2 separate regions of the Homo sapiens genome follow, and region 1 is linked to region 2. The links come from fine-mapping of genetic effects on gene expression. A gene starts in region 2. The other region holds a variant in brackets. All regions are shown on one strand. Distances are from middle to middle. Region 1 overlaps CRYL1 (crystallin lambda 1). Region 2 holds the start of CRYL1 (crystallin lambda 1).

The links. PIP is the estimated chance that this variant, and not a neighbour inherited with it, causes the effect.
Region 1: its variant is fine-mapped to the expression of CRYL1 in whole blood (TOPMed, PIP 0.97).

Annotation. Positions count from the first base shown.
Region 1 is chr13:20,478,468-20,486,797 of GRCh38, reverse strand. The region is part of intron 3 of CRYL1 (crystallin lambda 1); the gene reads left to right. Among named protein-coding and RNA genes, the nearest start is that of CRYL1, 43 kb to the left of the region's middle. The variant G/T (reference allele first, on the strand shown) is at 3,357.
Region 2 is chr13:20,521,654-20,529,985 of GRCh38, reverse strand. CRYL1 (crystallin lambda 1) reads left to right here and starts at 4,129. Exons shown (of 8, transcript NM_015974.3): 1 at 4,129-4,232. The coding sequence starts at 4,192. RefSeq lists enhancers at 1,156-1,265, 3,614-3,723 and a silencer at 3,904-4,453.

The DNA.
Region 1 (8,330 bases), 43 kb after region 2:
TACATGGTTGGCACTAGTGAAAACTGCTCTTTAACTACAGTCTATCTTTATTTTATAGATTAAATGAGTGTATTTACAAGGCATGACATGTTGAGCCATATCTATTATGTAGAACACAGAGCCAAGCCGGATGAGGAGAGGAAACTAGAGAAAGATGATGTAAACTAGTAGGTTTAATTCCTATGAGAGTTTATATTCTTCAGAAATTGTTGTACCTCCAGTACCAGAGAAAGGAGTGGGTAGGAATAGTTCTGACCGGGAGGCTTCGGGAAGGTTTAATGCAGGTAGGATTAGAGCTTGTCTTGACTTTTGACAAGTGGATTTTGGGGTGGGGGTGGGAGGATTGTGTGGGAGGAAGAGATGAATGAGATGAGAAGTCCCTTTGAGGATGTTTCTAAGGCCACGTTACAGACCCATTGGAAAGGTAGGAAAGGCTGGTCCAAGGTGGAAACCAAGTCGCCATGCTACGAATGCCAACCTGAAGAATTACTTAGGTGAATTGAGTAATACACAGTGCTTAGAGGAGTACACGAAGAGAAGCACCATTTATGTGTTTCTTTAAAGAAATAAAGATGAAGGCTGGGTGTGGTGGCTCACGCCTGTAATCCCAGCACTCTTGGGAGGCTGAGGGTGGCGGATTGCTCGAGCTCAGGAGTTCAAGACCAGCCTGGCCAATATGGTGAGACCTCATCTCTACTGAAAATACAAAAACTTAGCCGGGTGTGGTGGCATGTGCCTGTGGTCCCAACTACTTGGGAGGCTGAGGTGGGAGGATTTCCTGAGTCTGGGAGGTGGAGGTTGCAGTGGGCCGAGATCAGGCCACTGCACTCCAGCCTGGGCAACTGGAGTAAGACTCCATCTCAAAAAACAAACAAACAAACAAAATATTATGAGACCTGAAGAAAAAATAATTATAAAAAAAATAAAGAACTAAAGGGTTTGGATTTCAATCTAAGTCCTGATTAGAATCCTGCAAGGAAGGTATTTAGTAGGAGAATGAAATGAATCAGAAGGAAAGATGAGTAAGAAAAAAGAATCAGCAGTTCATTTTTGCCAGTTAACTGATTTTCTTGGGCATGTTTACACATTTCTTTTCTTTTCTTTTCTTTTCTATCTTTCTTTTTTCTTTGAGATGGAGTCTGGCTCTGTTGTCCAGGCTGGAGTGCAGTGGCGTGATCTCAGCTCCCTGCAACCTCCACCTCCTGGGCTCAAGGGATTCTCATGCCTCAGCCTCCTGAGTAGCTGGGATTACAGGCATGTGCCACCACACATGGCTAATTTTTTGTGTACATTTTTTAATAGAGATGGGGTTTCACCATGTTGGCCCGGCTGCTCTCTAACTCCTGACCTCAAGTGATCCACCTGCCTCCACCTCCCAAAGTCCTGGGATTACAGGCATGAACCATTGCGCCCAGCCTACACATTTCTTTATATGATGTAAAGCAAATTTAATCCTCTGAATTTTAAAACTAGTGCATAGGCTGGGCGTGGTGGTCCACACCTGTAATCCCAGCACTTTGGGAGGCCAATGTGGGCAGACTGCCTGAGCTCAGTAGTTCAAGACCAGCTTGGGCAACATGGTGAAACCCCATCTCTACTAAAAATACAAAACATTAGCCAGGCGTGGTGGTGTATGCCTGTAATTCCAGCTACTTGAGAGGCTGAGGCATGAGAATCACTTGAACCCAGGAGGTAAAGGTTGCAGTGAGCCGAGATGGAGCCACTGCACTCCAGCCTGGGCGACAGAGTGAGACCTTGTCTCAACAACAACAACAACAACAACAAAACCTAGTGCATATTAGTGTCTCAGGTTTACCAAACAAACAAGTAAATGAAACCCCCAGAGTGAAACCTACCTAATGCTGCCCCACATGTTTGTTAAAGTACATTAGTGTTTCTAACACAATGTAATGTTAAACATGTATCTTACCTAATTAAACATCTCTGTGTTGTAAAGAAAGTTTAGGACAATCCTGTTTAGGTTCATTATTCCAAAAATACTGAAGATTTTTGTGTATTTATATGTTTCCACTTCTCCTGTTTATTTTCTCTCTTTCTAATACATTTGAGATTATACTGTAAATAGAATTTTGCATCATGGTTTTTATTTAAAACTTAGAACATTTCCTGCTGTACGATGTGCTCGGGGCTGTATCAGAGAGAAGTGGCACAATCTTGGCTCACTGCAACCTCTGCCTCCTGGGTTCAAGCGATTATCGTGCCTCAGCCTCCCAATTAGCTGGGATTACATGCATCTGCCACTACACCCAGCTGATTTTTGTATTTTTAGTAGAAACAGGGTTTCACTATGTTGGCCAGGCTGGTCTCGAACTCCTGACCTCAAGTGAGACATATAATTTTTAGACTTAAAAAATTGTGATAGTCACCATTTGATGGCAAACCTGAAAGAAGCTTCCGTCTAAGAATTCCATTAAAGCTGAGGTTCCCAAAGTCCGCAGCCTCTGCCGGGCTGCAACCACTCATCTGCTGGCAACCACTCACCCGCCCTGTGGTGCTGCCTCATCTCAGGGTCCACAGACTTTTTGCCAGTGGCACCCTCTTAGCAGCTCTCACAGCTCCTTTTTCTGATTTATACAAGGGAAGGTTCTCAGTGTAGAAAAATCAATCTAGGCTACTTGGAGACAGTTTTCTTTTTTTAAAAAAAATTAATTGCTGTATTTTGGCCAGGCGCGGTGGCTCACGCCTGTAATCCCAGCACTTTGGGAGGCCAAGGCGGGCAGATCACGATGTCAGGAGATGGAGACCATCCTGGCTAACACGGTGAAATGCTGTCTCTACTAAAAATACAAAAAATTAGCCAGGTGTGGTGGTGGGCACCTGTAGTCCCAGCTACCCGGGAGGCTGAGGCAGGGGAATCACTTGAACCTGCGAGGTGGAGGTTGCAGTGAGCCAAGATCGCGCCACTGCACTCCAGCCTGGCGACAGAGCGAGAAGAGGGCTGGATGTGGTGGCTCATGCCTGCGATCCCAGAACATGGGGAGGCCACAGCGGGTGGATTACTTGAGCTCAGGAGTTCGAGACCAACCTGAGCAACATGGTGAAACCCCGTCTCTACCAAAAATACAAAAAATTAGCATGGCATGGTGGTGCATGCCTGTGGTCCCAGCTGCTTGGGAGGCTGAGGTGGGAGGATCACTTGAGCCCAGGAGGTGGAGGTTGCAGTAAGCTGAGATCCCGCCACTGTACTCCAGCCTGGGTGATAGAGTGAGACCCTGTCTCAAAAACAAACAGACAAACCAAAATAAAAGAAAGACTGTACAGAGCTCTTTTAGAATGATGATGTGGTACGTTACAGTCCAAGTGAGAAAGCTGACTTCATGTTGATGATATGGTCA[G/T]TCCAGATGGCGTGAACCCAGGAGGCGGAGCTTGCAGTGAGCCGAGATCGCACCACTGCCCTCCAGCCTGCGCGACAGAGTGAGACTCCGTCTTAAAAAAATAATAATAAATAAAAAATTACTTGCTGTATCTTAATTGTACATATTTGGGATTCATGTGTGATTGATTTGTGTGTTCAGTGTGTCATGGTAAAATCCCGGTGTATTAGGATATCCAGAACCTCACACGTTTATCTTTTATTGTGTTGGGAACACTATAAATCTTCTATTTTGAAATATATAACATTATTAACTCTAATTTCCCTACTGTATTATTGAATGCTAGACCTTGCTCCTTCTAGCGAACTGTATTTTGTACTCATTAACCAGCTTCTCTTCATCGCTCCTTCCCCTTCCTGGTAACTGCCGGCTGCGGGTGTCCACCATTCTACTCTCTACCTCCATGAGACCCACTGCTTTAGCTCCCCTACATGAGTGAGAACATGGGATCTTCGCCTTTCTGTGCCTGGCTTACTTCGCTTAATATAATGATCTCCAATGCCATCTATGTTGCTACAGTTTTCTTATAAAATATGTTGCTGTGGTTTTCTTATAAAAAGAAAATTATTACTATTTAGGGAATTGTTCACAAGCAGGAGGCAGAGTTTGAGGAGACGCGTGTGTGCGTGCGCACACACACGCGCGCACACACACACACACACAGACTGCTTGCCACAATGCTTCAACTAAAAATAATCCCACTGTCGGATCTGCCCAGCCCCAGGGGGCGAAGCCCAGTAATGGGAGTGTGGTTTTCCCCAGTGGATTGTTTTCTACCCAACCCTAGAGGGCGGGGAGCCTGGGTCAGGACGTTTCCTAATACTCTGCTGAAATCCGGGAGCACGCAAGAAAGAAACCTGAATTTCTAGAACTTAGTGCAATTTTGAAATCAAATCTTGCCTGGCAAGAAAACCTACTGTTCTGGAAAAATAAGTTTACTCTGAAAAGCTGGTCTCAAGCCTTGACTTTTAAAGCACATTAAAGCTCATTAGCCACTATGTCGAGGCCTTATCTAATCTCTGGAACTTAAAACCGGAGATCACAGTAGCTGGTGGGAGCCATGGGAATGATTTATAGAGTTACGAAGTTTAAATGGGGTTTCCTTACACAAAGTCAGAACAATCTGCAATAGCTGAAATCGAGAAGTTAAATGGATATTGTCTATGTAGATGATCAGAATTTGCATCTCAACTATATCTTTAAAATGGAGAGAATGCTAATCATTTTGAAAAGGACCTTCAGACACTGTCAGTAATTACAGGAAGTAGCGTTCTTTTGGAAATTTATTTGTTTTCTTAAAGGATTGTTGGACTTTCAGTCTTGGTTCACTGAGACTCAGAATATTTCTTCTTTTGGTAGAGATGGGTGTGGGGGTGGGGGGTTCAGGCAGCATTGGACACATGGGATGGCCAGCCCTGAGAATATTCGGGAATGTGCGAGGAAACTGGAGTTACACTTTTTCTGTTGTATGTGTTTTTTCTTTTTCCTTTCGAGATGGAGTCGCACCTTTGTCACCCAGGCTGGAGTGCAGTGGTGCGATCTTGATTCACTGCAACCTCTGCTTCCCGGGTTAAAGCAATTCTCCTACCTCAGCCTCCCAAGTAGCTGGGATTATAGGCGCCCACCACCATGCCGGGCTAAGTTTTGTATTTTTAGTAGAGACGGGGTTTCATCATGTTGGCCAGGCTGGTCTTGAACTCCTGACCTCAGGTGATCTGCCCGCTTCGGCCTCCCAAAGTGCTGGAATTACAGGAGTGAGCCACCACGCATGGCCATACGTGTTTTTTTCTTTAAAAACTGTAAAATCAGGTTTACAAAGATATAATTTCCATACAAGAAAATTCACTCGTTTCAGGGTTCAGTGCTATGTGTCTGACAGATGCGTACAGTCACGTATGAAATCAGCGTCACAGCTGGGGTTCAGAGCATAGAGCCTCTCCTTCCCTTTGCAGCTAATTTCCTCCCACCGTTCCCCAGGCCTTGCCCACCACTGATCTGTTCTTTGTCCCTATAGTTTTGCCTTCTCCAGAATGTTATGTAAAATGGAATCATACATGATGCAGCCTTTTGAGTTTGGTTTCTTTCACAGAGTAAAATGAATTTGACGTGGCTTGTGTGGTTGTGTTGATTGGTAATTTGTTGCTGAGTGGTATGACATTACTAAGGTGCGTGGGACTCTGGATGGACTGGGGCAAGCCCACCTCACACACTCACGAGATCATCTGGAAGCACGAGCCTTCAGTTTTCACTTGCGAAGTGTGAAAACATTCTGTCCTAATGTTCTACTAGCTTCCTGCCACAGCCCTTACTTTTCTGATGGCTTGCTCTTGCTTTATTCAAATAGTGTGCTTACAGAACTGGGCACGAGGTCTTATTTCTGTGAAGCTGTATTTTTATTTATTTGCTTGGCTTTTTTTTTGTAGTATGTATAGCTTCAAAGATATAATATGAGCAAGTAATGAAAAATGTTATACATTCAAGAGACAGGCAAGTTTTTCTCTTAATCTGTAATTATGTATTTATCTTCTTCTGTGACCAAATAGGACTTGAAAAAATGCTAAGTCAAAACATAAGAAGGACAGTAAAATAAAGTCTTAGAAGAGGAGGGCATCCTCATTGCATTCAGTGTGCCTGCAGGTGAGGACTAAACATGGCCAGCATTGTGGGTCCCCGCAGCATCCACGAACGGCAGGTTATTGGCATGATTTGCGCTGGCAGGCCCTGCAGTGATGGACGAGGCAGTGACCTGCCTGTGTCTCAGACATCGTGGGACCTGCAGGAGCATTAGGAAAGTACTCCACCATGATTTGTTCTCTTTGGCCTCTACCTTGTGGGGTGGAGTATGAAGTTATGTGTGCTGGAGCAGAATGTTAGAAGGCAACAGGCTTTGATCTTTGCCAGGAAGCCTGGCTCAAGGTCAGCGTTAGCCTGAATTTCTACTTTACCTTTCAGTTTGGGCATTTTGGCTTTTCCCCCTTCACAACCACCTGCCAATGGAAGACGGTAATTTTTTTTTTTTTGAGACAGAGTTTCATTCTTGTCACCCAGGCTGGATTGTTGGCTCACTGATCTTGGCTTACTGCAACCTCTGCCTCCTGGGTTCAAGTGATTCTCCTGCCTCAGCCTCCCAAGTAGCTAGGATTACAGGTGCCCACTGCTACACCCGGATAATTTTTATATTTTTAGTAGAGACAGGGTTTCACCATGCTGGCCAAGCTGGTCTCAAACTCACCTCAGGTCCGCCTGCCTTGGCCTCCCAAAGTGCTGGGATTATAGACATGAGCCACCATGCCTGGCCGTGCATTTTTTCAAAGAAGTAAATGTTTCTTCTTCATAATGTCTTTAAGTCTGGAAGGCTGGGATCTAGCTGTGTTGCGATTTTGACTTAGGTGTTAGGGAGTGGATGGGGAGGTCACCTGGTGTGTTCTTGCAGCAGTGTAGGAAAATGTAGTTCTTGGTAACAGCTTGGTCCATGACTTCTTGATGAACTGTGTGCCGTGGGAGAGCGCAGGGGCAGCCCCAGCATCCCTGTCTCAACACTGACATACTCAATGCTCTGTCCCCAGGGCTGGGCCAGCCAGTTTTCCTTCCAGGGTTCTTTAGGACAGAAACCCTCCCTTTAAAAAATATTATCTATAAATATTAACAAAGTTTGCATGCTACAAAGAGGAAGACATGCCTAATTCAATTCCTCTAATACCCATTTGTGACATTTTAATATATTTACCTCCAGCCTTTTTTCCACATATAATATTTATAATTGTAATGATAGTGTGTCTTTATAGATACAGTGTCATATTCTACTTATATTAATCAACATTTAACACTTTCTAGTGGCTGTGTAAGAGTCTGTCAAGTGGATGTATCAACTAAGTCAAATATCACCTAGAAAATAATGATCTTATGGCTACTTCCAGTACTGTGCGATTGTAAGTTAAACTTGGTTGATCATCCCTCTATCTCATTCTTCCATGCTTTTTGTGACTTTCTTCAGGGCAAGTTCATTCATAGGGAATTACTAGATGTAAGCCCCTTTCCAGCTCTTGATAACATTTTGCTGAGTGGCATTGTAAAAATTGCCAGTACACCTTCAGGAGTCATGTGTTAGCACAGTTGGATTTCAAGCTTGCCAGTGTTGGGTCTGCTGATCTTTAAAGTGATTATTAAAGTGTTACTTGAAAACATTGTCCCAGTTTGCAACAACCAATGTGGCATCATCCCAACATCCACATTCTTAATTTGGTTCCTAAAATAGTTTTAACCCTAAATTTCCTCTAAACTTAAACGGAATCTCAAATCCCTATTTAAAAGAAAGATGGCCAGGCGCGGTGGCTCACACCTGTAATCCTTTACAGGTGTAAAGGGAGGCCTTACAGACTTGGGGAGGCCGAGGTCGGGGGATCATCAGGTCAGGAGATTGAGACCATCCTGGCCAACATGGTGAAACCCCGTCTCTACTAAAATACAAAAAAAAAAAAAAATTAGCTGGGCTTGGTGTGGCGCATGCCTGTAGTCCCAGCTACCTGGGAGGCTGAGGCAGGGGAATCACTTGAACCTGGGAGGCGGAGGTTGCAGCAAGCCAAGATCGCGCCACTGCACTCCAGCCTGGCAACAGAGCGAGAAGAGGGCTGGATGTGGTGGCTCATGCCTGTGATCCCAGAACATGGGGAGGCCACAGCGGGTAGATTGCTTGAGCTCAGGAGTTCGAGACCAGCCTGAGCAACATGGTGAAACACCGTCTCTACCAAAAATACAAAAAATTAGTATGGCATGGTGGTGCATGCCTGTGATCCCAGCTGCTTGGGAGGCTGAGGTGGGAGGATCACTTGAGCCCAGGAGGTGGAGGTTGCAGTAAGCTGAGATTCTGCCACTGTACTCCAGCCTGGGTGATAGAGTAAGACCCTGTTTCAAAAACAAACAAACAAACCCAAATAA
Region 2 (8,332 bases):
AGTGAAACCCCATCTCTACTAAAAATACAAACATTAGCCAGGCGTGGTGGGGGGCACCTGTAATCCCAGCTACTTGGGAGGCTGAGGCAGGAGAATTGCTTGAACCTAGGAGGTGGAGGTTGCAGTGAGCCAAGATTGTGCCATTGCACTCCAGCCTGGGTGAGAGTGAGACTCCGTCTCAAAAAAAAAAAAAATTATTATTGAGTTTAAGACTTTTTAATATATTTCCTATACAAGCCCTGTAACATACGTGATTTGAAATATTTTATCCCAAATTGTGGCTTTTCCTTCCATTTTCTTAATATTGTCTTAGAAAATGTCTAAGTTCTTAATTTTGATGAAGTCAAACTAAGCAACCTTTTCTTTTATGTTACGCTTATGATGTCATATCTAATAAATCTTTGCCTAACAGTCACAAAGTTTTCTGTTCTCTTTTGCATGTTTTATAGTTTTTAGGTTTTACATTTAGGTCTATAATGCATTTTGAGGTTTTGTATGTGGTTAAGTGGTAAGAATTAAGGTGTTGATTATTATTATTATTTTTGCTTATGCATATCCAATTGCTCCAGCACCATTTGTTGAAAAGACTATCCTTTTTCTATTGAATTGTCTTTGTACCTTTCTCAGTCAGTTCAGGCTGCTGTAACAGAAGTACCATGAACTGGGTAGCCTATGAACAACCAACATTTATTTCTCACAGTCTGAAGGCTGGAAGTTCAAGATCAGAGTGTCAGCAAGATTGGGCTCTGGTGAAGGCCCTCTTCAAGGTTGCAGGCTGCTGTCTTCTTGTTATATCTTCATATGGTGGAAAGAGGACAAGAGAGCTCTCTGTAGTCCCTTTTAAAAGGGCAGTAATCCCATTCATGAAGGCTCCACCCTCACGACCTAAATACCTCCCAAATGCTCCAGTCCCTAACTACCATCACATTGGGAGTTTCACTTATAGTAAATGCTGAAATCACGTAGAGTTCTTCTAAATGTGTTCTTTTTCAAACTTGTTGTGTTCCTTTCAATAGTAACGGATTTTGTTCTGGAGTACAGTTAAGTTACCTGGAATCTGGGTGGTCCTTGTGAGGCTGGCTTTTGATCTTTCTTAAAATGGTTCCAGAGAAACCTTTAGTCTAGGACTAGCTTAGCTCCACTGCTGAAGCCACATGTTCCTGAGGATTCTATCTGGTGTCCTGTGTATTATGAGGTCTTTTCAGTCTGGCTGTGGGAACACACATCTTTGAGTCCTGCATGAGTCTGGGGGTGGTTGGCTTACTCATTCTGGGACTTCTCACCCCACCCTCTCACAGGTTCCTCTCTCACACGCACAGCTCAGCACTCAGCCAAACATGTGAAGGGCCTCTCTCTTCTACAGGTCCCTGGAGTTCCCTCTTTCCCCTGAGTGTTTGCCTCCTCTCTGCTACCATGCCCTGCAAATTCTCATCATTTGGCTTTTCTGAACTTCAGTCTCCTTTTTCCTTAACTCAGTGAGAAAACCAGGCTCTGAGCTTTCCCTTTCGGAGCTGCAGCCCATGCCTTGTCTATTTCCCTCTCTCAGGGATCGCTGTCCTAGGCTGCCTCTTGTCCAGGGTCTGAAATCCCTGTTTCTTCTATTTTGGGGGCCTTCTAGTTGTTTCAAGAAGGAGTTTAAGTTTCATCCTTATTTTTCCTCTTGGTCAGAAGCAGACATTCTCCGAAAATTCCATAGTCTTTAAAAACATTTCTCATTGATATTCATCATGTTTTCAATATTTTTCTATTAACAACCATGCTGAAATAAAGAAATTTGTCTAACTTCTTGTCCACTTGAATTTCTGTACAACAGATCTCTAGAATTGGAACTGCTAAGCCAAAGGGTACATACATTCTAAATTTTGTGTATGTCAGAAACTGCAAGGGTCTGAGATTTTCACTAAATTGCAACAGAGGTTCTGCACTTGGATGCTGACAGAAGTCACGAGACTCCTGGATTAAAAATAAATTATCTTATTACAGTAAAAGCAATAGCCAGAGTGACACCATATTTATATGGGTTCTTGGATCCTTAATTCCCACAGGGTTACATAGAGGGCCAGATGACTCCTGTGTTTGCAACGAGCAAGGGCCCAGCACTTTTTGCTTTCTTTTTTTTTTTGAGATGATGTCTCGCTCTGTCGCCCAGGCTGGAGTGCAGTGGCGTGATCTTGGTTCACTGCAAGCTCTGCCTCCTGGGTTCACACCATTCTCCTGCCTCAGCCTCCCGAGTAGCTGGGACTACAGGCGCCTGCCACCACGCCTGGCTAATTTTTAGTAGAGACGGAGTTTCACCGTGTTAGCCAGGATGGTCTCGATCTCCTGACCTTGTGATCCGTCCGCCTCGGCCTTCCAAAGTGCTGGGATTACAGGCGTGAGCCACCGCGTCCAGCCACTTTTGCTTTCTTTTGAGACAAAGTCTTGTTCTGTTAGCCAGGCTGGAGTAGAGTGGCAAAATCATAGCTCACTGCAGCCTTGAACTCCAGGGCTCAAGAGATCCTCCTGAGTAGCTGGGACTACAGGAATGCACCACCACACCTGGCTAATTTAAATAAATCTGTATTTTTTTTGTTTGGTACCAGAAGGATTAAAGTTATAAATATATGTACACATAAATAAATAAATATATAAACACACACACACACACACACACACACACATATATATACACACACACTAGAGATGCGGGGGGGGGGGTTCTCACTATCTCGCACAGGCTGGTCTCAAACTCCTGGCTTCAAGCAATCCTCCTGCCTCAGCCTACTGAGTAGCTGAGACTACAGGCGGCACCAGCCTGGATAAGTTTTTTAATTTTTTGGTAGAGACAGGGGTCTCGCTTTGTTGCCCAGGCTGGTCTTGAACTCCTGGCCTCAAGCTATTATTTACTACTCAGCTTCCCAAAGCGCTGGGATTTCAGGCATGACTTTGCAGGGAGCAGCAAACAAGCCAGTCTGCTGCCCCCATAGCCTCCGGTAGTGAGCAGTCACAGGATGCTCACTCCCTGGGTGCCTTGATTATTATATTGGCTGCCTGTGTAACTGACTACAGAAACTGCTCCATCAGAAGATGGAAGCTTTGGAGCCTTGTATTCTCAGCCAGAGCAGGCGCGGTTGCTCAGGCTAGCGGCTGTCTCAACAATGTACTGTAACATTCCCTCCAAAAAGTCCTCAACATTTAAGCTTGCCTTCTACTGTGTGTAAGTTGCATGTCCGAAACACTCCATTACGGATATGGGAATATAATCAATCCATGTGACTTAGCCAATCTGATGAGTGAGAGATGACTTATCTTCCTTGTGTTACTTTTCATTTCTCTTGAGGTTGAATACTTTACAAATATTTATCGATAATTTGTGAAACTGTTCTTTAAAAAACAAAACAAAACAAAAAAACCTAACCCCTCCCCTGAGATTTCTCTTTCCACGTTCCTGACTCAGGGGAAACAAAGGAAGACTTCCTTTTATCATCTCAGTGTTGGCTGCGGTTCCAGCTTGAGTACTGTCTCCTCTGTCTAATGACTGTGTCATTTCCCGTTCAGCTTGTGCTGTGTGGACGCACACCACTGTCAGGCAATGTGTGATGCCCCTTCCTCTTGGTCTGTTCCGGGCTCCAAGAAGGCCAGGAGTCAGGGCACGAGGGCATTTCCTTTTTCTGATACATAAACCGAGTGCAGAGTGTGCTCCGTGGAGGAATTCAGACGTGTCCTTCCGTAGCGCAGATGAACGCATCAGGTGTTCTCTTTCACTGCTGTCGCAGTCCCTGCGCCCAGTTCGCAGTTGGCGGCAGCGGCAGGCGTCTTTCAGAGACGAATTAGCAAAGGGGACATTCTCTGACAGTTTCTCTAGGGTGCTTTAGCGCTAGAGCCCGTGCCAGCCTGCCCGTGTCCCCTCCTATAGACACGGACTTCACGGTGAATGCTGACAGTCACAAGCGCGTGGTCTTCCCGCTTTCCACCCCCCGACGTGCCCCCGCGCTGGTCCTGCCCCTGCCCACGAGGGTCGGCGCGCCGTGTGTCTCCCGGTGTCTCGGGCCCGCGGCGCGCACCCCACTCAGGGACCAAGCGGCCCTCCCCGCCCTCCCGGTCCGCGCGCGCAGCCAATGGGCGCGGGACCCGCCCTCCCCGGAGCCCAGAGCTCGCAGCTCCGCCGGCGCCTGGTCCCAGCGCCCGCGGCGCCGCGTCCCCGGCCCAACCATGGCGTCCTCCGCGGCCGGCTGCGTGGTGATCGTTGGCAGGTAAAGGGCTCCGAGCCGCGCTGCTGCCCCTGGAGCCCGGGGAGACGCCGGGGACGTGGTGCCCTCGCGTGGGGCCCTCGGGGTGGGCGCCGGGTCGCTGTCCCCGCCCCGGCCTCCGGTCCTCCGAAGCCCTGCGCCCTGCGGCCCCTACGGCGCTGGCGGGCTCGGGGAGAGGCGCGGCTGGAGGGGCTTGGCAGGTGGAGGCGCCCCGCGGAGTTGGGTCTGCTTCCCGGGAGCCAGCGTTGCAGGAGGTTCCGAGGTTGACCGCCCAGGCCGCGGGGCCTGCGGTTCCTGGACTCTGTTGAATGTCGCCGCGTCTGCCCGCAGGTCCACATAGAAGTGCCAGGCACCGTGTTGAATGAAACGAATTCTGGCTGCGATCCTGCGACGACTGTGTTCTCATCCCCATTTTACGAATGAGAATACTGAGACTAAGCAGTTTACCTAAGGTCACAGGCGTTTAGTGACGGAGACAGGACTAGCCCAGCAGGGAGGGTGCCAGCGCAGTCCTGTCGGCGACGATGTCGCTGGAGGCCGCAGCAGGTGTTAGGCGAACATACACGCAGTCCTAATTCCTGGGCGAGGCGATGTTTCCAGAGGGGAGGTGGGGGCCGATGGAGCCCAGAGAGTTTGCTAAGTGTGTCCATTTAACAGCTTAAATTCTGCCCAAACTGATTTTTAGTGTGTGCTTCCCCCACCCCGCCCCCCACCCCTACGGTTACAATCCTTGCTATTTTTGTTTTTTAAAAAGGGGCATTTGTATGTACCTTTCTTTGGCCAGCTGTTAGCAGCAATCTATAAACATGTTAATACTTGCTATTGATAGTTAAAAGCACCTTTTTGGTGACTGCTGTTGAGGTGTTGGCCTGCCCCCGACTCCGCCCCCCATCAGTGTACAACCCGGTGTGGAGACCACTTCCAATGTCAGGGTGTTTCCTTCCCACTGAAGGAAGGCATCAGATTCCTTGTTGTCAGCTTTCTTTTCTCCAGAGCAGTGGAGTTAACTGTGCCTTTGTTCTTTCTGGCCCATGAGTGCCCGTGGTTGAATAGTGAAGGCATATTAAAAAGTGCACTTTGGGCCGCGCGCGGTGGCTCACCCCTGTAATCCCAGCACGTTGGGAGGCCGAGGCAGGCGGATCATCTGAGGTCGGGAGTTCGAGACCAGCCTGACCAATATGGAGAAACTCCGTCTCTACTAAAAATACAAAATTAGCCGGGCGTAGTGGCACATGCCTGTAGTCCCAGCTACTCGGGAGGCTGAGGCAGGAGAATCCTTTGAACCCGGGAGGCGGAGGTTGCGGTGAGCCGAGATGGTGCCATTGCACTCCAGTCTGGGCAATAAGAGCGAAACTCCGTCTGAAAAAAAAAAAGTGCACTTTGTACCAGTGGTGGTAGTTACCTCTGTCTTGCATTTTATTAATAGTTACCAGAGTTTATGTGTGTGTGTATATATATACACTCACACATATATATACACACACAGTTTTTACACGCATGCGTGCGCGCACGCGCACACACACACAATTTTAATAGGATAGGGTCTCGCTCTGTCGCCCAGGCTGGAGTGCAGTGGCACTATCATGGTGGATCTCCACCTTCCGGGCTCAAGCCATCCTCCCACAGCAGGCATGTGTCACCATACCCGGCTGATTTTTAAAATTTTTAGGTAGAGATGGGGTCTCACCATCTTGCCCTGGTTGGTCTTGAACTCCTGGGTGCAAGCGCTTTGGCCTCCCAAAGTGTTGGGGTTACAGTTGTGAGCCACCTTGCTTGGCCTTGTATAGGTCCATCATGCCTTGGAGTAGTGTTATGCATGCACCTAATACATGTGAAGTAAAGTTTTAGTTGATTGTGCAGTTATCTGGCTGTGGGTGGCTCAGTCTACTGAGGAGGAGCTTCAGTTAACAGTTTACTTCTGATTCCTTGAGGGATGTTGATAAGGAATTAGAGAAAGGCTTCCAAACTTTAAGGACCACATAATTCTCTGGGGCCTCTGCTTGTTTCTTTGTTTTCTGGTGTGAAAATCTTGTCTTTCCCCCACCCTCAGCACTTCAGCACACACCCAGCTCTGCCTCTGGGACAGTGCTGGTTTCTTCCCTTCCTCTTTACCACCCTTCTTTCTCGTCCCTCTATTTCTTTCCTGGCCCCACAGGTGATTCCAAGGAACACCCACTTAACAAATAGGGCTTGGGGAATGTCAATTAATTTGCCAAAACCTGGTTCAGTTTCATTCTTAGGTTTCAACAGACCAAAATATACATATTTCAATTTCAGGAGCATATTGTGTTTTCAGCTTTCCTTATCAGTTTATAGATTTCATCTTGAAAGTACCTGCTAGGAATACAGTCCCACTTAATTCTTTTCCGCTGATCTTTTTCCAAAGTTCACTCTTCCTTAGGGCCACTTAGCTGTCCTATAAACATCCAGGGCAAGTCCCTTCAGAATGGGGAGGGCTTGAAAGAGGATGAGAGAAACTCTTTTGGGCCTAGGGCTGCAGGAAAATCTGGTAGTGATAACTTTTAAAAATGGGAGTAGAAGTCCAGGCATGGTGGCTCATGCCTGTAATCTCAGCACTTTGGGAGGCCTAGGAGGGCAGATCACCTGAGGTCAGGGGTTCGAGACCAGTCTGGCCAACATGGCGAGATCCCGTCTCTACTAAAAATACAAAAATTAGCCGGGCGTGGTGGTGCATGCCTGTAATCCCAGCTACTCAGGAGGCTGAGTCAGGAGAATCGCTTGAACTCAGGAGGCGGAGGTTTCAGTGAGCCAAGATCACACCACTGCACTCCAGCTGGGGGATAGAGTGAGACTCCATCTCAAAAAAAAAAAAAAAAAAAAAAAAGTAGAAATGGGTATCATGAAGATAAATTTGCATTGGAGTAGTGTTCTAAGGCTTTCATTTTGTTAGCCTTACCTTTATAAAACACTGTGTTTCTAAATCGCTAAAATATGAGTTCTGTATTTGTATACACACTGCAAGATTCAGCTTGTAGCCCTTGAGCTTGTTTAGAATAGGAACACAAAATGTTCCTGGTGCAGGGCATGCCCTTTCTCCTGTCCTGCTTTTTAGGGGGCACACTCTTTCAGGATCAAGCTCAGGGACTGTCTCCTCCAGGAAAAGTTCTGCTTCTGGGCCTTTCCCCTAAGGATAGAAACTGTATTGTTGCCATTTGTATCCACCATGCGTGGTCCCAATAGACAGATAGTTGAGCGTTTGTAACAGAGACTGCTTATTTTTTAACTGATGTGCCCTATGAAGGGCTTGGTAGGACGTTGTTTTATATCAAGAAAAACATCCCATAAACTAGAAAGGCAAGAAAGAAAGGTATCCTATAAACTACAGTCTCCTTCATTTTTTTTAATTCCAAAATTTTGTTTGGGGTGATTGTACTTTTTTTTTTTGAGACGGATTCTTGCTCTGTCAGGCTCAGGCTGAAGTGCAGTGGCACCATCTCAGCTCACTGCAACCTCTGCCTTCTGGATTCAAGCAATTCTCCTGCCTCAGCCTCCCAAGTAGTTGGGACTACAGGCACGAACCACCATTGCTGGCTAATTTTCGTATTTTTAGTAGAGACAGGGTTTCTCCATGTTGCCCAGGCTGGTCTCGAACTCCTGGCCTCAACTGATCCGCCCACCCTAGCCTCCCAAAGTGCTGAGATTACAGGCGTGAGCCACTACACCTGGCCTGTGCATTTTTTATAAGAAACTTTCTGAGGCATGAATTTTCTTTGAAGTGCTATTCTAGGTATTTTCCTGCTAATTTTTGTACACATACACAGCAAACCCTAGGATGCCCTCCTTGCCTTTTGAGTCAGCTTAGACACTAAATGTGCCCTTCGCAGGAGTTACTTAATAGCTCTTTCTGGCAAAATTTCCATAGTAGACTGAGATCATGAGTGTAGGAACAGTTTTACTTCAATTTTTACCCAGTAAATAAGTAACTGTAGCTGGAAAGATACTTTCAAATGTATCTAAAGTGAATTTATTCAAAATTAAGTGACATTAATGATAGAATTGAAGCAATTATATCACTTTTCTCCCCTGCTGCTTTGCTACTGTGTAACAGAATAAATGTTCATCTGCATTCACCTTTTGTAGTA